Regions from separate parts of the Homo sapiens genome. Here region 1 is linked to region 2. Evidence: fine-mapped expression QTL. A gene starts in region 2. The other region holds a variant in brackets. All regions are shown on one strand. Distances are from middle to middle. Region 1 holds the start of LOC124906330 (a long non-coding RNA gene). Region 2 holds the start of DRC9 (dynein regulatory complex subunit 9).

Evidence for each region. PIP is the estimated chance that this variant, and not a neighbour inherited with it, causes the effect.
Region 1: its variant is fine-mapped to the expression of DRC9 in adrenal gland (GTEx, PIP above 0.99). The same link has a PIP of 0.9 or more in pituitary, putamen and unexposed skin.

The regions. Positions count from the first base shown.
Region 1 is chr3:197,899,991-197,915,456 of GRCh38, reverse strand. It overlaps DRC9 (dynein regulatory complex subunit 9), which reads left to right. Exons shown (of 12, transcript NM_032263.5): 8 at 1,415-1,576; 9 at 2,708-2,782. It overlaps LOC124906330 (a long non-coding RNA gene), which reads right to left and starts at 9,773. Exons shown (of 2, transcript XR_007096246.1): 1 at 7,019-9,773; 2 at 5,126-6,885. RefSeq lists enhancers at 1,612-2,243, 1,627-2,826, 13,660-14,160, 15,144-15,466 and a silencer at 9,259-9,308. The variant G/C (reference allele first, on the strand shown) is at 6,579.
Region 2 is chr3:197,956,656-197,970,776 of GRCh38, reverse strand. It overlaps DRC9 (dynein regulatory complex subunit 9), which reads left to right and starts at 10,786. Exons shown (of 12, transcript NM_032263.5): 1 at 10,786-10,932; 2 at 11,058-11,248. It overlaps LMLN (leishmanolysin like peptidase), which reads right to left and starts at 10,560. Exons shown (of 17, transcript NM_001136049.3): 1 at 10,337-10,560. The coding sequence starts at 10,531. RefSeq lists silencers at 2,972-3,172, 10,502-10,731 and an enhancer at 11,283-11,783.

The DNA.
Region 1 (15,466 bases), 56 kb after region 2:
TCCAAGGATTCCCATGACAGTTGGAATAAAATCTGAATTTCTCAGTTGGGTCTCCGGGGTCCTGTGTGGTGCCCTTACCGACCTCCAACCTCATCCTGTCCTCCCCTCAACCCTCACTAGGCTAGAGCCTCCGGAGCTTTCTTTCAGTTCCTGGAATGTATCCAGGTCTTGATTGCTTCAGGATTTGGGCATATACTTATTCTTTTTTTTTTTTTTAGAGTTCCCTTAACCCTATTTTTCTTTTCTTTTTCTTTCCTTTTTTTCTTTTTCTTTTCTTTTTTTTTTTTTTTTTTGAGACAGAATCTCGCTCTATCACCCAGGCTGGACTGCAGTGGCATGATCTCAGCTCACTTCAACCTCCACCTCCCGGGTTCAAGTGATTCTTCTGCCTCAGCCTCCCGAGTAGCTGGGATTACAGGCGCCCGCCACCACTCCCAGCTATTTTTCGTATTTTTAGTAGAGACGGGGTTTCACCATGTTGGCCAGGCTGGTCTCAAACTGCTGACCTCAGCTGGTCGCCATGCCTCAGCCTCCCAAAGTGCTGGGATTACAGGCGTGAGCCCCCGTGCCTGGCCAAGCCTATTTTTCATGTGGTGGGCTTACCTGTCCTTCAGGTATCGAATGAGCCATCGCTTTCCCGAGAGAGTCCTTCTCAGACCTTCCAGAGTCTAATGTACTCCTCCCTTGTTATTTCCTCCCACAGCCTCTCGAGCCTTCCTTTTCTATCATTTTGCACAATTTTTGGAAGTTTACACATGTGTTTGTCTCTTTTTAACCACCTCTCTTCTATTAGACTGTAAGCTCTATGAGGGAAGGGAATATGTCTGTTTAGATCTCCACAATTTTCCTAGCTCAGTGCCTGGTGCTGAATAAATATTTTTCTTAATGACTATTGAGTCCTCACAATTGCCAAGCACTTGGTGACCTGCAAAAAGAAAGCGTTTTCACACGTGTTCTCAAGGAAACCTAATAATCACTCTCTGAGATACTTCAGGCAGGTTGGGTGTTTGTATGTTTGTGTGTTTGTTTTATAGAAAGTAAAAAGTTGGAGATTTGACTTGGCCAAGTTCACACAGCTGGAGGCCTGGGTGGGAAGTCAGTTCTTTTGATCATTTTGACCAGTGTTCTTCCTACCAAAATGAGAAAGCTGTGTGGGACATACGGAGTACAGCAATAATGTGCCTGGGAACTAATCTCACAGCCCTGATGCGCCCTGATTCTTAGAAATGCTGTGTTACTCACTTTCATCTATACACTTCATGATTGTTGGCTAAATTTCCCATTGTGTGACAGCGGAAAAATAGTTCCAGTTCCTTATTGATTTATACGCATAAAAGGGAACCGTAAGCCGCTGACTGAACTGAATGGAGGTAGAATGTATTTTCAATTTAGAAACCTGGTCTTTCCACTACAGAGTCAGAATGAGTATATTGCTAACCTCAAGGACCAACTGCAAGAGATGAAGGCAAAATCCAACTTGGAGAATCGCTACATGAAAACCAATACCGAGCTGCAGATTGCCCAGACCCAGAAAAAGTGTAACAGAACAGAGGAACTCTTGGTGGAAGAGATTGAGGTAATCCCTGGGACATTAGCCAAGAACCCAGGAGATGGCAATTGAGCTGTCACTCCTGATCCCCTCTCAGCTAACAAAGGAGGGAGACAAAGATTTCCCTCCATCTCTATCGGCAACAGCCCCTCCACTTGAGGTTGAAAATAAAAGCCTAAATGAGGATATGCGTGTTCGCAAGCAGAGATTCCAGTGGGCTGTAGCCTCCATCTCCCGCCTCATAATGACTTTGAAAATTGGCTGCACTTTCTCTCCTTGGTCACTTCTTATTTTGGCAAACCAATCACCATTTTTCTGACTAATTATAGGGAGAGGGCAAAACGAGGTGCTTAGTTATGGCAGGATTTTGCTGCTGTTTCTTTCATCTAACCAGTACCTTTCACTCCTCCAGTAAGAAATACAGCATCGAGAGCGCTGAACTTCGTTCAAACCTGAGTTTATAGGATGAGAAGTCACGGTGAAAAATGCCAGGAGGAAGAAAGAAGTGGTAGATCTTCTTTGAGGGGAATGCTAAATGGCACACACGCACGCACGCACACACGCACGCACGCACGCACGCACACACGCAAAGCCAGGCACTAGTCCCAGCTAATCGGAGGTGAGGCAGTGAGGCAGGAGGATCCTTGAGTTTGAAGCCAGCCTGGGCAACTTCAGACTTCAACTAGGGAGACTCCCTTCTCACAAAAAAGAAAAGAAAACAAGAAAGAGCAGCAGGCAGATGGGAAGAGGGAAGCAGGAACAAACGTCCTTGGGCCGTGGAATCTGTGTGTGGGAGGACTCCTCGCTCTGAGACTGACGTGGCTCAAGGCCACGTCAACACTCTTCCTGGCACTCCGGAATCCCCCTTTTTAAGCCCCACAGCCTTGTGCCCTTGGAGCGCCGTTTCTGTCCTTCAGTGGGCACCTCTGTTCAGCTCACGGGATTGTGCTCGTCTCGTTAGGGACACACGCAGTCCACACAGTGCCGCGCCACGTGGCTCTGCAGTGTTGGTGAACAGGAGTTGCAGGGAACTGAAAGCCCGGGATCCCAGCTGGTAAAGGGAGCCTCAGCTACCGACCGAGCTGCTGCTCTCATCTTGAGAACTTCTGATTCCCAGCCCTGCGGGGAAGACGTACTGGTATCTGATTGTTCTTACAGAAACTCAGGATGAAAACCGAAGAAGAGGCCCGGACTCATACAGAGATTGAAATGTTCCTTAGAAAGGAGCAGCAGGTGGGTCCCCACAGCTTTTCTATGCTTTGACTTTTTTTTTGTACTCTGCTTATACTGAGGAAACAAAAAGAATATTTTGAAGGAAAACCAACCATCATTCTTTCAGCCTAATGAACTTTAGCTCATGTTTTCTTTCAGGGTTATGCATCTGAATAGATATCTTATATAGCTGTAATTTGAGAGAGTGCAGGTAAAATTTTGTTTTCTGCTTTTATCATTGAGCTTACATAAGAAATTTTTCGATTTCTATATTGCTGTATACTCATAATTTTCAAATTATGACTTAATTTATGACTTAAAATTTATTAAGTCAAATTATGACCTACAAATTTATGGGCTGGGCACAGTGGCTCACGCCTGTCATCCCAGCACTTTGGGAGGCCGGGGAGGGTGGATCACCTGAGTTCAGGAGTTTGGGACCAGCCTGACCAATATGGTGAAACCCTGTTTCTATTAAAAAATACAAAAATTAGCCGGGCATGGTGGTGCGCCTGTAATCCCAGCTATTCAGGAGGCTGAGGTGGGAGAATTGCTTGAACCTGGGAGGCAGAGGATGCAGTGAGCTGAGATCACGCCACCGTACTCCAGCCTAGGCAACAGAGCGAGACCCCGTCTCAAAAACAAAAACCAAAAAAAGACATAATTTTTAAATTAATTATTTTTAAATTATGACTATATTTAAAAATTTTTCCCAATAGTATAGTGGCCAATAAATAAAAAAGAAAAATAAATAAAGGCCGGACATGGTGGCTCACGCCTGTAATCCCAGCACTTTGGGAGGCAGAGGCCAGCGGATCACCTGAGGTCAGGAGTTCGAGACCAGCCTGGCCAACATGGAGAAACCCCGTCTCTACTAAAAATACAAAAATTAGCCAGGCATGGTGGCGGGCGCCTGTAATCCCAGCTACTCAGAAGGCTGAGGCAATAGAATCGCTTGAACCCAGGAGGCAGAGGTTACAGTGAGCCGAGATCATGCCACTCACTCCAGCCTGGGCAACAGAGCAAGAATCTGTCTCAAAAAAAAAAAAATTTACTAATCTTTTACACTATAAAAATAACATTCCCAGTTGAGTGAAGATTTTTAAAATTACTCATTGCTTTTCATTTTTTATGTTATTACAGTTTCTTTATAAAATAATTGAAAATTGTGTTTAACGTTCCATTGAATGGTTGTGCCACAGTTTATTTGTTACACTTTTTTTTTATATTTAGGTTGTTTCTAAAGTTTGTTATTATAAATAATGCACTCATTAAAGCTTTGCCCAAAGAACTGTTTTTCTTCATGGCAACTATTTACTAAAAGCCAATCTCAGTCATGAGATTTTTGTTTCAGAGACTAGTATTTTGTGACTTTTAATAAACATTGCTAATACTCTCGAATCTGTGCTGCCGTTAGCAGTGTTGCAGGCAGTAATTTCAAGGTCTCTTCAATATTAGTAGCCATTTTCAATATTTTTCAAAGTCTGCTAATTTAATGAGTTGTTTTATTTTTTATTTTTGCTTATTAACAGGTGAACATAACATTTTTCCACATGTTTACTCAATTTATTTCTTCTTGTGTGAAATATATATGACACGGTGGTTTTAAGAGCATTTTCAATACTAATAACCAAGCTGGGTCTATAATATATCTAAGGTTAGAATTATGTCTAAGTCTACCTGGAGTCTTTCTTTCTTTTTTTTTTTTTTTTTGTTTTGTTTTTGAGATGCAGTCTTGCTTTACTGCCCAGGCTGGAGTGCAGTGGCGTGATCTTGGCTCACTGCAACCTCGGCCTCCTGGGCTCAAGCGATTCGCCTGCCTCAGCCTCCTGAGTAGCTGGGATTACAGGCGCACGTCCAGCTAATTTTTGTATTTTTAGTAGAGATGGGGTTTCACTGTGTTGACCAGGCTGGTCTAGAACTCCTGACCTCAGGTAATCCACCTGCCTCGGCCTCCCAAAGTGCTGGGATTACAGGCGTGAGCCACCGTGCCCAGCCCCAGCTGGAGTCTTTCAAAATAACCCTATTGGATGAATAAAGAGAAAATTTTCCAGCTTAGTTATAATACAGCTTGCCTTTGGAAAAAGCTAATGAGTTTTCAGTCAAGGATTCCAAATGTGTGGTTAAAGAGGAGAATTTGTAGATGCTCTCTTGCAGGTCTTTACTGAAAAAAATACCTGGTAGGCTATTAGAATTAGGGTTCTGTAGCCCTGCACTTTAAGAATTATGTATCATGTTACCTGTTTCAAGTGTGAGATACCTGGCAGGTGTTGGATATTTATCAGTGAGTTGGTAGATAAATGGATCACGAAGGGATGACGCCAGAGTTTCCCAGATCTTCAGCCCAATAACACAAGCAATACATAAGTATATATTTTTTTATTTTTTATTTTTTAGGGACAGGGTCTCTCTCTGTTTCCCAGGCTTCAGTGCAGTGGTGCCACCATAGCTCACTGCAGCCTCAAACTCCTGGGCCCAAGTGATCCTCCCACCTCAGCCTCCTGAGTAGCTGGGACTACAGGTGTGCACCACCACGTCCAGCTACAATTTCAGACAGAAATACATAGGTTAAAGAAAGTGAAAGCCCTCTTAAATTACTCCCCTTTCTGAAGGGAAGTTTCTTCCACATGTATTTCTTTTCATATACATACTTATACCTAAAAACATACCTATTCTCAGTGGTGGTTTTTTGTTTTGTTTTGTTTTTGAGAGGAGTCTTGCTCTGTTGCCCAGGCTGGAGTGCAATGGCGCGATCTCGGCTCACTGCAACCTCTGCCTCCAGGTTCAAGTGATTCTCCTGCCAGCCTCCCGAGTAGCTGGGATTACATGCACCTGCCACCACACCTGGCTAATTTTTGTATTTTTGGTAGAGATGGGGTTTCACCATGTTGGTCAGGCTGGTCTTGAACTCCTGCCCTCAAGTGATCTGCTGGCCTCAGCCTCCCAAAGTGCTGGGATTACAGGCATGAGCCACTGCACCCGGCCTAGTATTTGTTTCTTAAGTAAATTGGATCATGCTATATATAGTGTTCCAGAGCCTGTTGTTTTCTTCTTACATTTACTTTGTTTTTAATGTTTTCTGTAGCAGTACAGCTGATTGATAGAATATATCTCACACTCAGAATATACTGAAATTTAGTGAACCATTCTGTCAGTAGATTTAGGTTGTTTCCAGGTTTTTCTGTGATAACATTGCGAAACCTTCTTGGTTCTGTCTCTAAGTGTATGGTATGTGGAAAGGTATTTCTTTTGTGTATTGCTGTGGATTTGTTAAACCCTCTAATGGTTTTTCAGTGGATTCATTTGGATTTCCTAGGTGGAAAATCTTACTGCATGCAAATAACAATTTTATATTATCCTTTTTATTATTTATATGTCTGTTTTCATTTCATGGCTTGTTGTCTAGCTAGAAAGTCCAGTGTACTTGTTGGTTGTAGTAGTGACAATGGGGAATCCTTTTTCTATTATTGGTTGTTAATACAACACCACTGTTCTGGTGTTTTAGTCAGGATTACACATGAGTTTGTCATAGTCATGCCAAGTTACTGATATGCAAGTTAGAGCACTCACAGGGAAAGAACAGGACCCTGAAACTTGGAATGAGAACACCTGCTCAGATTCGGATGAAACTGGCAAATCACTTTAAAGCTCCCTTGGCAGCGGAAGTACCCTGCCCTCCTGTGTCTGAGGACACCGCACTTCCTTTGCCTGAAGATCCTGTGATAACTTCATCTGGGAGGATGCCTTGGAAAGGGTTGCTCGCTCTTCAGACCTGGTACAGTCACCCCTGTGATAACTTCATCTGGGAGGGTGCCTT[G/C]GAAAGGGTTGCTTGCTCTTCAGACCTGGTACAGTCACCCCTGTGATAACTTCATCTGGGAGGATGCCTGGGAAAGGGGTCACTCTTCAGACCTGGTACAGTCACCACCCCTGTGATGACTTCATCTGGGAGGATGCCTGGGAAAGGGTTGCTCGCTCTTCAGACCTGGTACAGTCACCACCCCTGTGATAACTTCATCTGGGAGGGTGCCTTGGAAAGGGTTGCTCTTCAGACCTGGTACAGTCACCACCCCTGTGATAACTTCATCTGGGAGGGTGCCTTGGAAAGGGTTGCTTGCTCTTCAGACCTGGTACAGTCACCCCTGTGATAACTTCATCTGGGAGGATGCCTGGGAAAGGGGTCACTCTTCAGACGTGGTACAGTCACCCCTGTGATAACTTCATCTGGGAGGGTGCCTTGGAAAGGGTTGCTCTTCAGACCTGGTACAGTCACCCCTGTGATAACTTCATCTGGGAGGATGCCTGGGAAAGGGGTCACTCTTCAGACGTGGTACAGTCACCCCTGTGATAACTTCATCTGGGAGGATGCCTTGGAAAGGGTTGCTCTTCAGACCTGGTACAGTCACCCCTGTGATAACTTCATCTGGGAGGATGCCTGGGAAAGGGGTCACTCTTCAGACCTGGTACATTCACCCCTGTGATAACTTCATCTGGGAGGGTGCCTTGGAAAGGGATCGCTCTTCAGACCTGGTACAGTCACCCCTGTGATAACTTCATCTGGGAGGATGCCTTGGAAAGGGCTCACTGTTCAGACCTGGTACAGTCACCCCTGTGATAACTTCATCTGGGAGGATGCCTTGGAAAGGGTTGCTCGCTCTTCACACCTGGTACAGTCACCACCCCTGTGATAACTTCATCTGGGAGGATGCCTGGGAAAGGGTTGCTCTTCAGACCTGGTACAGTCACCCCTGTGATAACTTCATCTGGGAGGATGCCTGGGAAAGGGGTCACTCTTCAGACGTGGTACAGTCACCCCTGTGATAACTTCATCTGGGAGGGTGCCTTGGAAAGGGTTGCTCTTCAGACCTGGTACAGTCACCCCTGTGATAACTTCATCTGGGAGGATGCCTTGGAAAGGGTTGCTCTTCAGACCTGGTACAGTCACCCCTGTGATAACTTCATCTGGGAGGATGCCTTGGAAACGGCTCACTCTTCAGACCTGGTACAGTCACCCCTGTTGTCACTGGATCCATAACTAGGGTCAAATCTTAGCATGTTACAGTGGGACATAAAACTCAGATAACTAACTCAGAAGGAAATCACTTACACACCAAAAGAATGGTAAGATTTTGCTAATAAATATTGGAAGAAACCTGGGAAACATGTCGAGTTGATTCTAAGAGTGTTAGATCCAACAGGGTAGGCTATCACACTCCATTTGTTTAATTCATTGATATAGATGCACTTACCAGAGAGTCTGGATTTCATGGTTTAGCTTGAGCAGCAGGAGGTGACTCAACATTTGCCTACATTTGATGAGGTGGAGATGTCAGAGCTTCCCTGCTATGATTTGGGGGAGAGAATCCAAAGATGTAGGGAGACAGGAATGTCACAGTGGATTTATCATGTGTGACTTACACGTCTACCACCAAGCACCCATTCCTAACCATGAGAAGGCCCAGAAGACACTTCTTTACTAAGACATTGAGAAATAGAATAGTGAGGGGAGCATCTGCCTCTCTAAAAGCTCTGTGCTTGCTTTCCTACATAGGCAGGTGTGACCCTAAGGATGTTGTCATTGAGATGAGCTTCCTGGTATCAGTGGGGTGATGGGATCCTGAAGTGCCTCCGGATAATTGGGAGCACTTAATTGTCAGAGATAAGGTGGGCACATTTACCACGAAGGGCGGCAGAGATGTAATCAGAATGCCTTTGGCCACTGGGATTCTTGGCAATGGCTAATGAATGATGGTATCTCTAGGAACAAAATTGTTGGGCTGCCTACTCAAGTATAACAGAAAAAAATTCTGGGTCTGGTAGCCAGAAACCTGATTTGAATCACCACAGCAGAGAGTCACGGCCTCTCCCCTAGCTCTTAGGACTGAGTCAGTTCACAGCCCCAGGGCCCCTTTATGAACTGGGGTGTGAGGGTGTGGGGGGATTTCCCCCAAAGAATGAACTCTGCAGCCCTGCTGCAAGTACCTACTGTAAGTCTCCCTCTAGGCCCTACTCAGAAGACCTGTGCTATTTACAGAGTGACTGTGCACTGGGGAAAGCAAACTACCCAGGCCTTCTGAGATGACTGAAGCATTGGCTCTGAATTGATGTTCATGCACGGGGACCCAAAGTGACAGCGTGGCCACTAGTCAAAATGGGAGATTAATGGTGGTTAGGTGACAGATACCTTACTAAAAGTTTTTTTTGTTGTTTTGTTTTGTTTTCCTAATCTGGATGCGTACTCAATTAGGGAAAAAAAAAAAAGAAAAACAGTTTTTTTGTCCATTGAGTTATTTTTTCTCCTTTAATATGTTAATAAAGTAGAATACATTGAGAGAGTTGCTGATTTGAGTCATCTTTAAATTCCTGGGATAAACCCTACTAGGTCATAACGTGTTTGGCCAGCAGGAATCCTCCTGCGCGGTCTCAGTAAAACGTGTGGGTGGACAAGTGCGGCCGGGTGTCCCACCCACATACCGCTGGCAGCCGCACTCTGGTGACCGGACAGTGAGACGCCCTCCTGTCGTGTGCCTCCAGCGCCCTCTACTGACACAGCTTAGCATTTTGTCAGCTGGCAAGAAAAACGTTCACAGCAAGCATCCACTTTCACAAAGCAAAGAGGTGGATTTGGAGCTGACAGGCAGTAAATTGGTAACTGCCACAAATGAGTTTTTTTTTTTTTAATCATCAACTGTGAGATTTACTCTGTAGGTTTCTGGTAGACAAGCTTTATCAACTTCAGGAAGTATCTTTTTTTCTTGTTAAAAGTTTTTCTTCTCATCAGGATGAGTACTCAATTTTGAGATGGATTTTTTTTTCATTAATTGAGATGATATTGTTTTCTCTTCTTTAATATGTTAATAAAGGGAAATACATTAATAGACTTGCTGATGTTGAGTCATCTTCAAATTCTTGGGATAAACCTTACTCGATCATAATGTGTTATTCCTTTTTTTTTTCTTCTGAGATTGGAATTTTGTTCTTGTTGCCCAGTGGCACGATCTCAGCTCACCGCAGCCTCCGCCTCCCGAGTTCAAGTGATTCTCCTGCCTCAGCCTCCCGAGTAGCTGGGATTACAGGCGCCTGCCACCATGCCTGGGTAATTTTGTATTTTTTTTAGTGGAGACAGGGTTTCTTATGTTGGTCAGGCTGGTCTCAAACTCCTGACCTCAGGTGATCCACCCGCCTCAGCCTCCCGAAGTGCTGAGATTACAGGTGTGAGCCATCACACCCGGCCTGTTATTCCTTTAATAGACTGCTGAAAAACTGATTTATAGACTTAAAATTGTTTCTATTTTAAACTCTTTTCTTTTTCTAATTTTTAATTTTTGTGGGCACATAGTAGGTGTATATACTTATGGAGTGCATGACGTACTTTGATACAGGCGTGTGACACGTGGGAGTCACATCAGGGGAATTGGGGTCTCCATCACCTTGAGCCTTTATCCTTTGTGCTACAAATGATCTCATTACACGCGTTTGGTTCTTTTTAAATTTACAATTAAATTATTGACTATGGTCGCCCTGTTTTGCTACCAAATGCTGGGTCTTATTCATTCTTTCTACTTTTTTGTACACATTAACCATCCCCACACCCTCCGCATCCCCCACTACCTTCCCAGCTTCTGGTAACCACCCTTCTACTCTCGACCTCCATGAGTTCAATTGTTTTAATTTTTAGCTCTCACAAAGAAGAACATGTGAAGTTTGTCTTCCCCTGCCTGGTTTATTTCACTTAACATAATGACCTCAGTTCCATCTATATTGTTGCAAATGACACAATCTCATTCTGGGCCGAATAGTACGCCATTGTTTATATGTCCCACCTTTTTAAATTTATTTATTTATTTACTCCTTTTTGAGAGGGAGTCTTGCTCTGTTGCCCACAATCTTGGCTCACTGCAATCTCTGCCTCCCAGGTTCAAGCAATTCTCCTGCCTCAGCCTCCCGAGTAGCTGGGACTACAGGTGTGCGCCACCACGCCCAGCTAATTTTTGTATTTTAGTAAAGATGGGGTTTCTCCATATTGGCCAGGCTGTTCTCAAACTTCTGACCTCAGGTGATCTGCCTCGGCCTCCCAAAGTGCTGGGATTACAGGCATGAGCCACCACGCCCGGCCCCACCTTTTCTTTATCCGTTCGTCTGTTGGTAGACACTTACATTGCTTCCAAATCTTGGCTATTGTGAACAGTGCTGCAATAAACATAGGAGTGCAGACATCTCTTCCACATCTAATTTCCTTTCTTTTGGGTATATACCTAGCAGTGGAATTGCTGGATCATATGGTAGCTCTATTTTTAGTTTTTTGAAGATCCTCCAAACTGTTCTCCATAGTGGTTGTGCTAATTTACATTTCCACCAACCAATACCGTACCAGGATTCCTTTTTCTCCACAGCCTTGCTAGCATTCATTATTGCCTGTCTTTTAGATACACACCATTTTAACTGGGGCGAGATGATGTCTCGTAGTTTTGATTTGCATTTCTCCGATGATCTGTGATGCTGAGCACCTTTCTATATGTCTGTTTGGTGTTTGTGTGTCTTCTTTTCAGAAATGCCTATTCAGATCTTTGGCCCTTTAAAAAAAAAAATATATATATATATATATATATATGTATGTATATATATATGTATGTATATATATATATGTATGTATATATATGTATGTATATATATATGTATGTATATATATATGTATGTATATATATATGTGTGTGTGTATGTATGTATGTATATGTTATACACATAGAGAGAGAGAGAGACAAGATCTCACTATTGTTGCCCAGGCGGGCCTTGAACTCCGAGCTCAAGCATTCCTCCAGCCTAGGCCTCCCAAAGTGCTGGGATTATAGGTGTGAGTGACTACACTCGGCCCTTTTGGCCCATTTTTCACATTATTAGATTTTTTCCTATAGACTTGTTTGAGCTCTTCATATATTCTGTTTATTAAACCCTTGTCATATAGGTAGTTTGCAAATATTTTCTCCAGTTCTTTGGGTTGTCTTTTCACTTTAATTGTTTTGTTTGCTATGCAGAAGCCTTTTATATTTTATATATTTATTTATTGAGACAGAGTCTTGCTCTCTCGCCCAAGCTGGAGTGTAGTGGCACAATCTTGGCTCACTGCGACCTCCGCCTCCTGGGTTCAAGAGATTCTCGTGCCTCAGCCTCCCAAGTAGCTGGGACTACAGGAGTGCACTGCCATGCCCGGCTAATTTTTGTATTTTTAGTAGAGGTGGGGTTTCACCTCTGGCCTTGAAGTCCTGGCCTCAAGTGATCCACCTGCCTCAGCCTCCCATAGTGCTGGGATTACAGGTGTGAGCCACCACACCTGGCCTGTGCAGAAGCTTTTTAACTTGATATGATCCATTTGTTCATTTTTGCTTTGGTTGCTCGTGCTTGTGGGGTATTACTCAAGAAATCTTTGCCCAGTCCAATGTCCTGGAGAGTTTCCCCAGTGTTTTCTTTTAGTAGTTTCATAGTTTGAGGTCTTAAGTTTAACTCTTTAACCAATTTTGATTTGATTTTTGTAAATGGTGAGAGATAGCTGTCTAGTCTAGTTTCATTCTTCTGCATATGGATATTCAGTTTTCCCAGCACCATTCATTGAAAGGACTATCCTTTCCCCAGTGTTTGTTCTTGGTACCTTTGTCAAAAATGAATTCAGTGTAGATTTATTGATTTGCTTCTGGGTTCTCTATTCTGTTCCATTGGTCTATGTGTCTGTTTTTATTCCAGTACCATGCTGTTTTGGTTACTATAGCTCTATAGTATAATTTCAAATCAGGTAATGTGATTCTTCCAGTTTATTTTTACTCAGGATAGCTTTGGCTATTCTGGGTCTTTTGTGGTTCCATATAAATTTTAGGATTGTTTTTCTATTGCTGTGAAGAATGTCATTGGTATTTTGATAGGGAGTGCATTGAATCTGTGGATTGCTTTGGGTAGTAATGTACATTTTAACAATATTGATTCTTCCAATCCATGAACATGGAATATCTTTCCATTTCTTTTATCCTTTTTTCTTTTGTCTTTCCTGTGTATTTTCAAATAGCCTGTCTTCAGGCTCACGAAGTCCTTCTTCTGCTTGATCACTTCTGCTCTTGAGACTCTGATGCCTTCTTCAATATGTCAATTGCATTTTTCAACTCAAGAGTTTCTGCTTCTTTTTAATTATTTCAATCTCTGTTAAGTTTATCTGATAGATTTCTGAATTGTTTCTCTGTGTTATCTTGAATTTCTTTGAGTTTCCTCAAAATGGCTATTTTGAATTCTCTGTCTAAAACGTCACATATCTTTGTTTCTCCACGATTAGTCCCTGGTGCTTTATTTCATTTGTTTGGTGAGGTCATGTTTTCCTGAATGGTCTTGATGCTTCTGGATGTTCATCGGTATATGGGCATTGACGAATTACGTATTCATTGTAGTCCTTGCAGTCTGGGTTTATTTGTACTCATCCTTCTTGCAAAGGCTTTCTAGGCATACGAAGGGACTTGAGTGTTGTGGTCTAAGCCGTACCTCATTAGGGAACACTCCAAGCCCCTAATTCTGTGGTTCATGCAGACATGTAGAGGTATCACCTTGGTGGTCTTAAATAAGATCCAGAAGAATTTTCTGGATTGCCAGGGAGAGACTCTTGTTCTTTTTCCTTACTTTCTCCCAGAGTCTCTAACTCTTTGCTGAGCTACCTGGAGCTGAGAATGGGGTGACACAAGCCCCCTGGTGACCACCACCACTGGGACTGTGCTAGGTCATACCTGAAGCCAGCACAGCACCTGGTCTCACCCAAGGCTGTAACCACTACCTGGCTACCACCTATGTTCACTCAAGGCCCTAGGACTCTACAATCAGCAGGTGGCGAAATCAGCCAGGCTTGTATCCTTCCCTTCAGAGTGGCCAGTCCCCCCAGGCCCTGGGCGGGTCCAGAGATGCTGTCTGGGAGCCAAGAGCTGGAGTCAAAAACCTTAGAAGTCTACCTTATGCTCTAAACTCCTGCAGCTAAGCTGGCCTTCAAGCCACAAGACAAAGTCCTTCCTCCTCTTCCATCTGCTTTCCACATGCGGAGGAGCCGCTGCTCATGGCCACTACTACCACAGGCCCATGGAGAGTGCCGCCAGGCTACTGCTGATGTTCAGCTAAGGCCCAAGGACTCTCCAGTCAGTTTGTGGTGAATGCTGCCAGGCCTGGGACTTACTCTTCAGGGGAGTGGGCTACCCTCTTGCCCAGAACAGGACCAGAAATGCCATCCAAGAGTCAAGGCCTTGGGCCGGGGGCGGTGGCTCATGCCTATAATCCCAGCGCTTTGAGAGGCTGAGAGGGGTGGATCACCTGGGGTCGTGAGTTTGAGACCAACCTGGCTAACATGGTGAAACCTGGTCTCTACTAAAAATACAGACATTAGCCGGGCATGGTGGCAAGTGCCTGTAATGCCAGCTACTTGGAGGCTGAGGCAGGAGACTCGCTTGAACCCCAGAGGTGGAGGTTGCAGTGAGCCAAGATCGTGCCACTGCACTCCAGCCTGGGTAACAGAGTGAGACTCCATCTCAAAAAAAAGAGTCAAGGCCTGAACTGGGGACTCCAAGAGCCTCTTGGTACTCTACCCCATTATAGTTGAGGTGGTACCTAGGGTGTAAGACAGAGTCCCCTTTTACTTTTTCCTCTGCTTTTCTCAAGCAGGAGTCTCTCACCATAGCCACTACCATGTCTTCGAAGGCAGCACATCTCAAGAGTCTCACCCAAGGCCCATGGTGTACCCCTGTGGACCCCTGCTGGTTATTCAGGGCCCGGGGGCTCTTTCGTCAGTAGATGATGAATCCTGCCAGGACTGGGCCCTCCCCTACAAGGCAGTGGGTTCCCTTCTGGCCCAAGGTGTGTCTAGGAAGGCCACCCAGGAGCTAAGGCCTGGAGTGGGGGCCTCATGACTCTGCCCAGAGCCCTATTCTGCTGTGGCTGAGCTGGTATCCTCTGCCCAGTGCCCTATTCTACTGCGGCTGAGCTGGTATCCTCTGCCCAGAGCCTTGTTCTGCTGTGGCTGAGCTGGTATCCTCTGCCCAGTGCCCTATTCTACTGTGGCTGAGCTGGTATCCTCTGCCGAGTGCCCTGTTCTGCTGTGGCTGAGCTGGTATCCTCTGCCCAGAGCCTTGTTCTGCTGTGGCTGAGCTGGTGTCCTCTGCTGAGTGCCCTGTTCTGCTGTGGCTGAGCTGCTATCCTCTGCCCAGTGCCTTGTTCTGCTGTGGCTGAGCTGGTGTCCTCTGCCCAGTGCTCTATTCTGCTGTGGCTGAGCTGGTATCCAAGATGCAAGACAAAGTCCTCTGTACTCTTCCCTCTCCTCAAACAGAAGAAGGGGAAATCTCTTTTAGAGGCTGCACTGCCTGAGGTTGGGGGATGGGTGACACAAGCACTCCCTTAACCACCATGGCTGGTGTCTCACTAGGTCCAAGTCCCCCAAGTCCACAGGCACCAGGACCAGGGCTTGCGTAAGGGTTGTAGAGGGTCGTAGTCCTCCTGGCCTAGACCGCCTTTCAAGTGTATTGAGGACCCCAGAGCGGCGTAGCCCGAGATGCTGAGGCTTGCTGGGACTCGGGTCCCACTGCTAGGCTGGGCGGTTCTCCTCTGGCTGGGGCTGGTCTCAGTGCTCCCTCCATGGGTGGGCGTCACCCGAGTTCAACCCGGTTTTGCTTTTTCCACTGTGACGGCAGCACTGAGTTCAAT
Region 2 (14,121 bases):
TGTAGGAAGTCCTGCTTGCAAGGTTGACCTTTTGCTGGCATCTAGAAGTGTAATTTAAAACTTCACTAGGTTATAAGGATGGCTCATTGTGTCTAAACTATTTGCAGAAACAATATGGTTTATGTTGAACATTTGCTTGCTTCTGGAGTCTGAAATTTCAGTGGCTGAAATTTTGTCTACGTGACCAGCCTCCAATAAAAACCCTGGACTCTAAGAATCAGGTAATCTTCCCTGGTAGACCACACTTTGTGCACGCTGTCACAACTCACTGCTGAAGGAATTAAGCAGGTCCTAAGTGACTCTACTAGGAGAGGACTCTTGGAAGTTTTTGCCTAATTTCCTCTAGTCTTTGTCCCATGATCCTTTTCCCTTTGCTGATTTTACTTTGTATGCCTTCACTGTAATAAATCTCAGCTGTGAGTATGACGACAAGCTGAATCTAGCGAGGCCACCTAGCAATCACCAAACCTGGAGTGGTCTTGGGAATCCTCAACACAATTATACACACTTCTTTTCTTCTGTTAATTTCTTTGGAGACAAATAAATATTTAAAGCAAAAATTGTAAAATTTTTAATTGTGAAGTTTATTTTTTTTATTTATTTTATTTATTTATTTTGGGTTTTTTTGAGACAGTCTCTCTCTATTGCCCAGGCTGGAGTGCAGTGGTACAATCTTGGCTCACTGCAACCTCCGCCTCCTGGGTTCAAGCAATTCTCCTGCCTCAGCCTCCTGAGTAGCAGGGATTACAGACACCTGCCACCATGCCCAGCTAATTTTTGTACTTTTGTAATTTTAGTAGAGACAGGGTTTCACCACGTTGGCCAGGCTGGTCTTGAATTCCTGACCTCAGGTGATCCGCCAGCCTCGGCCTCCCAAAGTGCTGGGATTACAAGCATGAGCCACTGTGCTGGCCTAATTGTGAGGTTTAAAATATATAAAGAAGTCATATATTAATATATTTACAATATTATATTACAACAACAGCAAAATGAATGAAATTATGCTGTTGAAAATGTCCCATATTTAACATGACTATTTTAAATAGATACCATAAGTACACTACATATATTGTAGTCACTGGAGCAAACACTCAATATTTTGTGTTGTACATTCTGCTTCAGTGCGTGTGGGACATTCACCTAGCTAGATCATATTTTGGGCCATAAAACAAACTTTAAGACATAAAAGAACTGGTAAAAAGGATGCTCTCTATCAATAACAAAATTCGACTAGAATGCAATTTCAGAACAATATCTGGGAAAATCCCCAAATACTTTTGAAAAAATCAAACAACAAACTTCTAAATAACCCTTAGTTAGTAGAGAAAATTACAAGGGAAATTAGAAAATAGAAGTAAATGAAAATAAAATTACAAGTTAATATTTGTGGGATACAGCTAAAGGAGTATTTAGAGGAAACTGATAGCTTTAAATGCCTATTTTAGAAAAAAGATCTCAAATTCATGATCTAAGGTTCCACCTTAAGATACTAAAAAAAATATATATATATTAAACTCAAAGAAAGCACTAAGGCTGGCATGGTGGCTCATACCTATAATCCCAGCACTTTGGGAGGCTAAGGTGGGAGGATTGCTTGAGCTCAGGAGTTCAAGGCTGCAGTGAGCAGTGATCGTGCTATTGCACTTCAAACTAGGCAACAGAGTGAGACCCTATCTCAAAAAAAAAAAAGACAGAGAGAATACAAACTACCAATGTCAGAAACTACACAGAAGATATCACTACAGACTTTCCAGCAATTTAGAGATGATCATAAAGGAATGTTATGAAAAACTTCATGTCCATAAATTTGACAACTTAAATGAAGTGAAATTCTTTGAGAGACATAACTTAATAAAACACTGTTAAGAAATAAATAACCTGAATAGTCCAATATCAAAGTTTATGAGTTCATAGTTTATGACTTTCAAAAAAGAAAATTCCAGACTGAGATGGCTTAATTAGTGAATTCTACTAAACATTTAAGGAAGAAACAACATTGATTCTACAGAGACTCTTCCTGAATATAGAAGAAAATGGGACATGTCCCAACTCATGCTATGAGACCAGCATTATCCTGATACCAAACCTGTGTTGCAGGAAGTCAGGGACCCTGAACGGAGGGACCGGCTGGAGGCGCGGCAGAGGAACATAAATTGTGAAGATTTCATTTTAATATGGACACATACAGTTCCCAAAATTAATACTTTTATAATTTCGTATGCCTGTCTTTACTGCAATCTCTGAACATAAATTGTGAAGATTTCATGGACATTTATCAGTTCCCAAATAATACTCTTACAATTTCTTTTCTTTTTTTTTTTGAGACAGAGTCTTGCTCTGTTACCCAGGCTGGAGTACAGTGGTGCAATCTCAGCTCACTGCAAGCTCACACCATTCTCCTGCCTCAGCCTCCCAAGTAGCTGGGACTACAGGTGCCTGCCACCACACCCAGCTAATTTTTTTTTTTTATTTTTAGTACAGACGGGGTTTCACCGTGTTAGCCAGGATGGTTTCGATCTCCTGACCTCGTGATCCGCCCGCCTCGGCCTCCCAAATTGCTGGGATTACAGGCATAAGCCACCACGCCCAGTGTACTCTTATAACTTCTTACGCCTGTCTTACTTTAATCTCTTAATCTTGTTATCTTCCTAAGCTGAGGATGTACATCACCTCAGGACCACTGTGATAATTGTATCTAACTGTATAAATTGATTGTAAAACATGTGTGTTTGAACAATATGAAATCAGTGCACCTTGAAAAAGAACAGAATAACAGCAATTTTAGGGAACAAGGGAAGACAACCATAAGGTGTGACTGCCTAAGGAGTTGGGCAGAATACAGCCATATTTTTCTTGTTGCAGAGAGTCTATAAATGGATGTGCAAGTAGGGAAGATATCGCTAAATTCTTTTCCCAGCAATGAATATTTAAGACCCTGGGAAAGGAATGCATTCCTTGGGGGAGGTCTATAAATGGCCACTCTGGAAGTGTCTGTCTTATGTGGTTGAGATAAGGACTGAAATATGCCCTGGTCTCCTGCAGTACCCTCAGGGTTATTAGGGTGGGGAAAAAACCCCACCCTGGTGAATTTGAGGTCAGACCGGTTCTCTGCTCTCAAACCCTGTTTTCTGTTGTTTAAGATGTTTATCAAGACAATACGTGCACTGCTGAACACAGACCCTTATCAGGAGTTTTTGATTTCGCCCTTGGCCTTGTGATCTTTGCTTTGCCCTTTGCCTTGTGGTCTTTACTGGCCTCAGAAGCATGTGATCTTTGTTCTCCTTTTTGCTGTTTGAAGCATGTGATCTTTGTGACCTACTCCCTCTTCGTACACCCCCTCCCCTTTTAAAGTCCTTAATAAAAACCTGCTGCTTTTGCGGCTCAGGCGGGCATCACGGTCCTACTGATAGGTGATGTCATCCCTGGAGGCCCAGCTGTAAAATTCCACTCTTTGTACTCTTTCTCTGTATTTCTCAGCTGGCTGACACTTAGGGAAAATAGAAAGAACCTACTTTGAAATATTGGGGGCGGGTTCCCCCGATAAACCTGAAGTTATTATTAGAGAGGAAAAGAAAACTACAGACCAGTATCCTTGCAGGTAGTTGGTAAAAAACCATAAATATAAAATTTAAAAAATAAAATTAAAAAAACTACAGACCAATATCCCTTATTAATATAGATGTAAATGTGCAGTGGCTCACACTTACAATCCCAGAGCTTTGGGAGGCCAAGGTAGGAAGACTCCTTGGGCCCAGTGGCTCCAGACGAGACTGGGAAACACAGCAAGAGCCCATATCCACTAAACATGAAAATAAATGAACCAGGTGTGGTGGCTCTCACCTGTAATCCTAGCTAACTGGGAGGCTGAGGCAGGAGGACTGCTTAAGCCAAGTCATTTAAGGCTGTATAGTGAGCTATGATTGTGCCACTATACTCCAGCCTGGATGACAGAGTAACACCCTGTCTCTAAAAAAATAAAAATACATAGATGTAAAATCATCAACAAAATATGAGCAACTCAAACCCAGCAAAATGTAAAAAGGGTAATAAATCATCACCAAGTGAGGTTCATCTCAAGAATGCAAGGCTGATTTGACATTCAAAAAAAATCAATCAATGTAACTCATAATATCAACAGAGTAAAGAAGAAAAGCCACATGATTGTATCAACTGGTGCAGGAAAGACAGTTAACAAAATTCAACATCCATCCATGATTAAAAAAAAAAAAAACTCTTAGAAAACTAGGTATAGAAGGGAATTTTCTTAATTTTATAAAGCATACCTACCCAAAAACTCCACAATTAATATTTTTAACAGTGGAAGACAATGTTTTCCCTCTAAGATCAGAAACAAGACAAGGATGTCTACTCTCACCACTCTTATTCAACATCATGCCCCAGACAGTGTGATAATATTAACATTAAAGATGTAATAGGCCAGGTGCAGTGGCTCATGCCTGTAATCCCAACACTTTGGGAGGCTGAGGCGGGTGGATCACTTGAGGTCAGGAGTTTGAGACTAGCCTGGCTAACATGGCGAAACTTGTCTCTACTAAAAATACAAAAATTAGCCGGGCATGATGGCAGGTGCCTGTAATCCCAGCTACTCTGGAGGCTGAGGCAGGAGAATTGCTTGAACCCAGGAGGCAGAGGTTGCAGTGAGCCAAGATTGTGTCACTGCACTCCAGCCTGGGCAACGGAGAGAGACTCTGTCTCAAAAATAAAAACATGCAATAAACAAAAGATATATGTTGTAATGCCTAAAATGCACAAGCACACACACATACACACAGGTAAATGTAGGCAACTGAAAAGATACACATGTAAGCTTGAACCACAAGCAAGCTAAATACACCTATTTTCTCCTGTATTAATACAGTCTTTATTAGGCTAGAACACAGTGGTGCCAACCTGGCTCACTGCAGCCTTCACCTCCTGGGCTCAAGTGATTCCCCCACCTCAGCCCCACCAAGTAGGTGGGACTACAGGTGTACAACACCACACCCAACTAATTTTTGTATTTTTTGTAGACACGGGGTTTCACTAAGTTGCCCAGGCTGGTCTTGAACTCCTGAGCTCAAGCGATTTGCCATCCCGGCCTCCAAAAGAGCTAGACTTATAGGCATGAGTGACTGTACTTGGCCAATAGTTTTTAATAGAGAAAATCTGAAGTAAAGTATCAATCACCTCAGCTTATTAACATGTATAGAAATCTATATTCAATAACTACAGAATAGGCCAGGTACAGTGACTCATGTCTATAATCCCAGCACTTTGGGAGGCCAAGGCAGGAGGATTGCTTGAGTCCAGGAGCTCAAGACCAGCCCGGGCAACATACTGAGATCCCATCTCTAAAACAATAAAATAAAAAAAAACTATAGAATATATATTCTTCACAAGTACACGTGAAAAATTAAACAGGATAGATCATATTCTAAACCATAAATAAAATAATCTCAGCCAGGTGCAGTGGCTCACGCTTGTAATCCCAGCACTTTGGGAGGCTGAAGCAGGAGGATTGCTTGAAACTGGGAGTTCAAGACCAATCTGGGCAACACAGCAAGACTCTGTCTCTACAAAAATAAAAATAAAAAATGTGCCAGGTGTGGTGGCATGTGGCTGAAGTCCTAGCTCCTCATAAGGTTGAGGCGGGGAGACTGCTTGAACACAGGAGTTCGAGGTGGCAGTGAGCTATGATCATATCACTGCACTCCAGCCTGGGTGACAGAGGGACACCTTGTCTCTTTCTTTCTTTTTTTTTTTTTTTTTGAGACAGAGTTTCGCTCTTGTCGCCCAGGCTGGAATGCAGTGGCACAATCTCAGCTCACTACAAACTCCACCTCCTGAATTCAAGCAATTCTCCTGCCTCAGCCTCCAGAGTAGCTGGGATTAAAAGTGCCCGCCACCATACCTGGTTAATTTTTGTATTTTTAGTAGAGACAGGTCTCGCCATGTTGGCCAGGGTGGTCTCAAACTCCTGACCTAAGGTGATCCACCCACCTCGGCCTCCCAAAGTGCTGGGATTACAGGCATGAGCCACTGCACCCGACCAAGACCCTGTCTCTTAAAAAACTTTTTTAGGCCGGGCGTGGTGGCTCACGCCTGTAATCCCAGCACTTTGGGAGGCCAGGGCAGGCAGATTACAAGGTCAAGAGATCAAAACCATCCTGGCCAACATGGTGAAACCCCATCTCCACTAAAAATACAAAAATTAGCTGGGTGTGGTGGCGTGCACCTGTAGTCCCAACTACTCAGGAGGCTGAGGCAGGGTAATAGCTTGAACCCAGGAAGCCGAGGTTGCTCTGCTGAGATTGCGCCACTGCACTCCAGCCTGGGCAACAGAGCAAGACTCTGTCTCAAAAAAAAAAAACAAAAAACAAAAAACAAAAAAAAAATTTTAACCTAAATGATAATTAAAATGCAAAGTGTCAAAATTTGTGAAGAGCAGCTAAAGTTGTACTTAGAAATTTATATCTTTGAATGTTTACATTAGAAGGAAAAAAAGGTTAAAAAACAGTCATCTAAGTTTCCGCCTAACAATATGAGCAAACTAAATCCACAATAAGTAGAAAAAGGAAATAACAAAGAACAGAAAACAATGAAATAGAAACAAACATTAAAGAAAATTACCAAAGCCAACATGACCAAGTAAGGTTTATCCCAAAAAAGCAACGTTGATTTACTATTGGAAAATGCAATGTAATCTACCACATAACAGTTCATAAAGTGAGAAACTATATGATTATCTCAATAATTACCAGAAAAAACAAAAAGCATTTGACAAAATTTGTCCCCATTCAGGATAAAAACCCTCGGGAAACCAGAAACCAAAGGGAGCTTTCTCAATCTGATAAAGGGAACTACAAAAAAATGTAAAGTTAACATCATACTTAATGGTCAGAGACTGGTCCTAAGATCAGGAACAAATGGCAAGGAGGCGTGCTATCTCACTTTTGCTCAGCCTGGAACTGCCTGTCCTCACCAGAGCAATAAGGGGGAAAAAATACATAAATGATACAAAACTACAACAACAAAAATTGTTCCTATTTATAGTTAATACATTGCTAACATCAAAAATTGTAAGGGAGGAAACCCTAGTAGAATAAATAAGTTTAGCTAGGTCTCAGAAGACAAGGTTAATATACAAAAATTATTTCTACCTACTAGCAGTGTATTTTTACATACTAGCAGCAAACAACTGGAAAACTTTAACCATAATTCCACTGACAATGGCATCAAAAAATAAAAGACTTAGGAAAACATTTAACAAAAAACATGCAAGATCTGGCTGGGCACGGCGGCTCATGCCTGTAATCCTGGCACTTTGGGAGGTCGAGGCAGGAGGATCGCCTAAGGCCAGGAGTTCAAAACCCACCTGGACTCTGTCTCAACAAAAAATAAAAAATTAGCCAAGTGTAGTGGCGCATACTTGGGAGTCCCAGCTACTTGGGAGATTAAGGCAGAAGGATCATTTGAGCCCAGGAGTTCAAGCCTGCTGTGAGCTATGATTCTGCCACTGCACTCCAGCCTGAGTGACAGAGCAAGACTGTCTCAAAACAAAACAAAAAAAAAAAAGAGAGAGAAAAGAAAACAGAAGAAAAAATGCAAGATCTATACATTTTTGCTGAGAAAAATTATGCATCACCTCAATAAATGGAGAAACATACATTATGTTCATGGATTGAAAGACTTGATACTGTTAGATGTCAATTATCTCCAAATCATCTATAGAGTAAATGCAATCCCAATCATAAACCCATCAGGCTTTTTTGAAGAAACTGAGAAGCTGACTCTAAAATTTATATGGATCTGTCTTTGAGCCTCCCCCTGCCAAAAAATAAATAAATTTATATGGAAATATAAAAGCCTTAAAATAGCCAAAATCATTTTGAAAAGGAAGAACAAAGCAGGAATGCTTACAATAACAATACTGTCTGATTTCAATATTTATTACAGAGGTACATAATCCAGGCAACTGAATACCCATATGGGGCAAAAAAAAAAAAAAAGGATATTGATCCCCTATCTCACATCATATATAAAAATTAATTTCAGATGAATCATAATCCTAAAAGTGAAGGCTTCTAGAACACAGGAGAATATTTTTATGACCTAGGGGGTATTTAAAGATTTCTTAGAAAGGACATCTGTTGGTGAGGATATGCAGCAACCATAACTAATATTTTGTTGATGGGGGTGTAAAATGGTAGAGTATTTTGGAGAAAGGGTTAGTATTTTTTATAAACATTCACCTACCCTTGACCCAGTAATTTCACCCCTAGGTATTTATCCAAGAACAATGAAAACATATATCCACAAAAATTACTGTACAAGAATATTGACAGCAGCTTTATTTATAATAGCTAAAATCTGGAAGAAACCAAAATACCCATCTTTGAACAAGATAACGGAAAAACAAATTGTGATATAAGTATTCAATGGAATACTCAGCAATTCAAAGGAATAAATTACTATCACATACAACACGAATCTCACAGACATAATGCTGAGCAGATGCCAAATACAGAGGAGTACATACCATATAATTCCATTCAATACACGAAGCTCTAGAATTGGCCAAACTAATCTAGTATTTAAAAAAAAAACAATTAGAAAACTAGTTGCCTGGGGTGGGCAGGAGACTGGCACAGGACAGGAGGGAACGTCTGGAGATGTGGGAACGTTCTATGTTGTGATGGGTTGTATGCTTTATGTGGATGTGCATGGATACATTTGTGGCATTTCAATATATGTAAATTTTACCAAAAAACTTCAAAAGAACAGTAACTCAAGTAGGGGGCTGCGGAATGGCTGAAAGTATATGAAACAAGAATGGCGGAACCTTAAAGCTAGGTGTTAAAGCTAGGTGATGGGTCCATGCGGGTTCATTAAATTATTCTGATGTTGTTTGTACCGGCGTAATAAAAGGTAAAAACAAAACTTACAGGCTTTAGTTGAGAACCAGTTAAAAAGTAAAACTGTTTTGTAGCTCCCCAACACCACCAAAACCAAAAAAGTTATGTAATTTCCTGTAGCATTGAACAGAGGTATAGTCATTAGCGTAACTACAGTGAACACTGTAGCTCCTGGCTATACTCCGTGTCCAGGTTAAAACAAGGAGAATAGTGAGGACGACAGGGTATTTATATACTCTATGAGGAACTAGCGAAACGTATTAGGGACCAGGACTCTTTCTCTTATTTTAATCCAAATTAAAAGAGAGAAGTGCAGGGTTTTGTGGGAAATTTTTTTTAAAGAATTCAGCGAAAATGCAGCATGATAAAAGCTGCAAAAAAGCTATAAACTCCGAAGTTAATATTTTGGCTCACTTGGTTATGAAGAGTATGCATGTAACATTTTGGGAAATTACCATAAAAATGAGTGTCTTTAGATTTCTGGGCTGAATTGAACATGTGTAGGTGTATCAGCATGCAGCCCTGCCCCAGGTACTCTCCCTTTCTCAAAGAATATGGATTATCGTGGACCCACCTCTGACCTAAATACTGTGAAGGAATCAAAGTATGAAACACAAACCTTATCCCACGGAACCTTATAATCTAACTGCAAAGGCAAGATACGCCTAAAAAATAAGCCATTATCCCATAGCAGTACTTGGTTAAATGCCAGGAGGGAGTACAGACACGATGTACTTTTTAATGAAAAGAATATTGCGCTGTGGTGGTTTCAGCAGGCTGCCTTGAGGTTAGGGAATTTGAAATGAGACAAAGAATTTAAGCAGAGAGAAAAATGGGATGGGAGGCGGGCAGGCACTTCCAGAGCAGAGGAACCGGGTAAAGCAAACAAAGTGACGACATAACGTGAAAAGAAACCTGAATTTTGTCTCCAGTGAGCCCCCAACGTCCCACCAACGCCTCTATCTGGCTCTCCGTTCAATGTCTTCCCGAAACTTCAGGTCAGCGGTTCCTAAAGTGGTCCCCGGACAAGCATATCTCACCAACCAGCTGGGAACGTAAACTGTCAACTCTGGGGACTCATCCCAGACCTACTGAGTCACTAAGTGGGGGACTGAGGGCGGCAATCCGTGTTGTACCATGTGCGTCGGGTGACTGTGATGCACGCTCAAGTTTGAAAACCACTCCTCGAGGGCTACTGCTAAGCACAACCCTCCGCACAGAAGTGATACTGTTCTGAGCGCCTAACAGCCAACTTGCAGGGTGTAGGGAGCTGAGAGCGGGTCCCAGGCCTGTAAGAGTCAGGCTCTGCCCCAATTTCGCTTTCTCATCCAGGACACCTTCTCCCAGTCACTATCTCCTACGCCTGCTCCTTCTGGGTGACTTTACCCTGAGAGGGCCCGCTCCCGCCCATGTCGCCCTACCTCAGTGTCAGAGGGGACGTGGTGCCGGCAGGGAGGGGAACTGCCCAAGGAGACGGGAGTAGATGTGGCGCTGGCCCGGAGCCCGCCCAACAGGAGTAAAACGCTTCGGACCCACACAGACCCGCTCCAGCGCCACCGGCTCCGGCCCGGGCCTGAGCCCGAGTAACCCACTCCTCCGCCCCATTCGGCCGCCATCTTCGGGCCGAGCGTCGTTACCATGGAGTGCGTGACGCCTCTGCGCCCGCGCCGGCCCCGCCCCTCGCCGCTGGGGGTAGACGGAGGGCCCAGCCGGCGGAAAGGCGCTTTCCGATTGGACAGCGTCACCCGCTAGAAGTTCGCCGCAGAAGATGAGGGCGGCGATCACGTCCATCGCGTCTCGTGGCGCGAAGCCGGCCAATAAATGCTGTTTGGAGGCCCACGTGAGTGGGGCTGTGGGAGGAAGAAAGGCTAGCGGGCGTTGGCCGTATGTGGGTGTCTTGAGGCAGTTTTTCAGTTCTTTCATTTACCAAAGTGACATGCACCTACTAGGTGCCAGGTGTTTAGACGTACATACAACCCTCTGCAAAATCTTTCAGTGTAGTCCTCTGTATGAAAAGGTGAGTGGAATACTTTCATTTACTTATCCTGAGTCACCAACTTTAGGCCCATTACTTAACTAACGCCATTTCCTATAAAAATCTATGATACACCGTTTACTGTTTTACTCAACTCCATCTTTTAGTTTCCAGCCAAGAATTGCCACTGCACCTGAGATAAGGGGGATCCTGGCCATTAAGGAAACCTTGCCTTCGAAACTGAGCCGTGAGGAACTATACAAAATGGGAAATTGGGACAAATCCCAGTGGCTCATGACACTAAGAAGTAAAATTACGAACTCACTGAGCTGGAAGTCATTCAACGGGAATTGAATAGGTAAGCTACTATACTGGGAAATGAAGGAGTAGGAAAGAAGGAAAACCTCAAGTTACAAACTATGGGTGGAGATTCAGCTACGAGGATGGGGTGGTGTTTTAAGTATTACCATTTTACAAGTAAATACTCACTAAATGTGTGTATCATCCCACAACTAGTGGAAGGTGGGATTCCAAACCACATTTGTAACTTAGGAAACGTGCCCTTTCCACTACAATACCACAAATAAATTGCTATTGTGAATAAAGAATGGAACCAGTCATCCTAAGCTCCTGGCTGTAACAATAGTGTTATGCTGAGGAAAGGCTGTTTCTTTTTTTTTTGAGACGGAGTTTCACTCGTCGCCCAGGCTGGAGTGCAGTGACACAATCTCGGCTCAATGCAACCTCTGCCTCCCGGGATCAAGCTATTCCCCTGCCTCAGCCTCCCGAGTAGCCGGGATTACAGGCACCCGCCACCACGCCCGGCCAATTTTTATGTTTTTAGTAGAGACGTAGTTTCACCACGTTGGCCAGGCTGGTCTCAACCTCATGACCTCAGGTGATCCGCCCGCCTCCGCCTCCCAAAGTGTTGGGATTACAGGCGTGAGCCACCGCGCCCAGCCAGGAGGCAAAGCTGTTTCAATGGTGTAGTGGACAAGTTACCAGCCACGCAAGCCCTTTCCTGTAAACCACAGGACTCCTCCTTTGGCAACGGTGACTTGAGTACTTTTGACTTAATTTCCATATGGGAGGAGAAAAACATAAAAACATACATTTATTATTTACAAATGCTGCATCATCTCAGTAAGGAAGAGCATGTATTTGCTTTTGAGTCTCATTTGCCATTGCACATGTAAGTTACTCGAGTTAAAGTCTCAACCGTTTGTTTTCCCCCGCTTTGCTCAGATGCCTACCACTTACCGTGTGTCTGTTCCACTCAGAATACCATCCACTTCTCCATATGCCTAACCCAGACCTGAAATACCCATCTGTCTTCATGGATATGTCCACAGGTTAACATCTTACAGCTTCCTCAAATTCAACTTTAGCTCCTCCCACAAAACCATCTCCTGATTCCCCAACTTTGTAAATGCACCATTATCCATCCAGCCCCCAAAGCCAGAAACATGTTAGAATTCTCCATTTGAGACTGAAAAGCCCACCTAATTTTCCCTTGTTTATGCTGGGATGCCATTGGGATTTGAAATAATCTGAGCTGGTGGCTCATATCTGTAATCCCAGTACTTTAGGAGAACAAGGCAGGGGGATCACTTGAGGCCAGGAATCGAGACCAGCCTGGGACCCCGAAAAAACATTTTAATTGGCTGGACGTGCCTGGCATGCACCAGATTCTCTGGAGGTTGTGGGCAGGGGATTGTCTGAGCCTAGAAGTTCAAAGGTGCAGTGAGCTATGATCACACCACTGCACTACAGGCTGGGCAACAGAAACCCTGTCTCAAATGAGTAAATTTTAAAATTTCCTGTGAATCAAGTTCTTCAGTGACGTTGTATTACACTCAAGAACAATCTTAAGCCTAAGATCCTCAGTTCAGTACAGGAGACCTCTCATGTGGCATTTTAGTTTTCTGGACTTTCCAGTCAGCCACTTGTGTTCCTAAAATCTTCCTGCCATTTCCTCTTTGAGATGCCGCCCTATTTCTTCCTCTACACTTTACGGTTTTATGTTACGCAGCCAGTATACCTACATGCCTCTATCCCTGAATACCCCGAGTACTACTGATCACATCTACTTAACTGGCACAATGAACACAGTAGGTACTTTTAGCTTATGTTGGCCTTTTGGAGTGGGTGTCCAAGATCAGCACTTCCTCGCGCTGACTGCGTAATTCCCAAGTTCAATTTCATTAGCATTCTAATATACAACTTCCAACTTCCGGCCTTGAAGTACTGCTCACTTCTGGTGAATACAGCATCAGTGCACTTTGTTTGCCTTAAAACCACAATCCTGGGAGGCTGAGACAGAATGGCGTGAACCCGGGAGGCGGAGCGTGCAGTGAGCCAAGATTGCGCCACTGCACTCCAGCCTAGACGACAGAGCAAGACTGTCTCAAAAAAAAAAAAAAAAAAACCACCACAATCCTAATAAATGAGCCTGGCAGAGTACTAACACAAGCCCATGTCCACGAAGCACGGGACTCCAACAATGGCAGCTTTGGCTTGCATACCACCATTGGACTGACCAAACCTTTCTTAGAACTGCCAGTGTGACAGAGGGACCTCTGGGGGAGGGCGTCTTGCTTTCTCTTGGGTCAGTATATCTCACTACCCTCTTTGTAGGTTAGCAGATTTGTAACAGGATGTTACTGGAGGAAGGGGAAGTGGGAAAGCTGGACAGTATTCCCACTCTTTTCCCTTACTACAAAAACTTTCCTTCTCAGTCCTGTCTCCAGGAGATGGAAGACCAAATAACACAACAGCCAGTGTGCTTTTCCTACCCAATCCTTTCTTTCACCCTCTTATCCTAATACATTTCCAGCATGTTAATTCTTTTGCAGCATAGACAAGAGAACCCATACACGCTGCAAAACTGCAAAAGGGCTTAGGTGGCAAACTCCCAGTTTCTTGTTGACATTTTCAGTGCAATTTAAAGATGTTAATTTAAAAAACTACCTGTGCTGTAGAGATCAGTAACCCTCAGGGGGCAGACAAAAAGACTGTTACTGCATCAGTTAGAAATGTAGTACTACCTGGGCAACATAGTGAGGCCCATCTCCACAAATAACTAAAAAGTTAACTGGTTGTGGCTGCACATGCCTGTGGCCCCAGCTATTTAGGAGGCTGAGGCAGGAGGTTTGCCTGAGCCGAGGAGGTTGAGGTTGAGGTTGCAGTAAGCTGTAATCACGCCACTGCACTCCAGCCCAAGCAACAAAA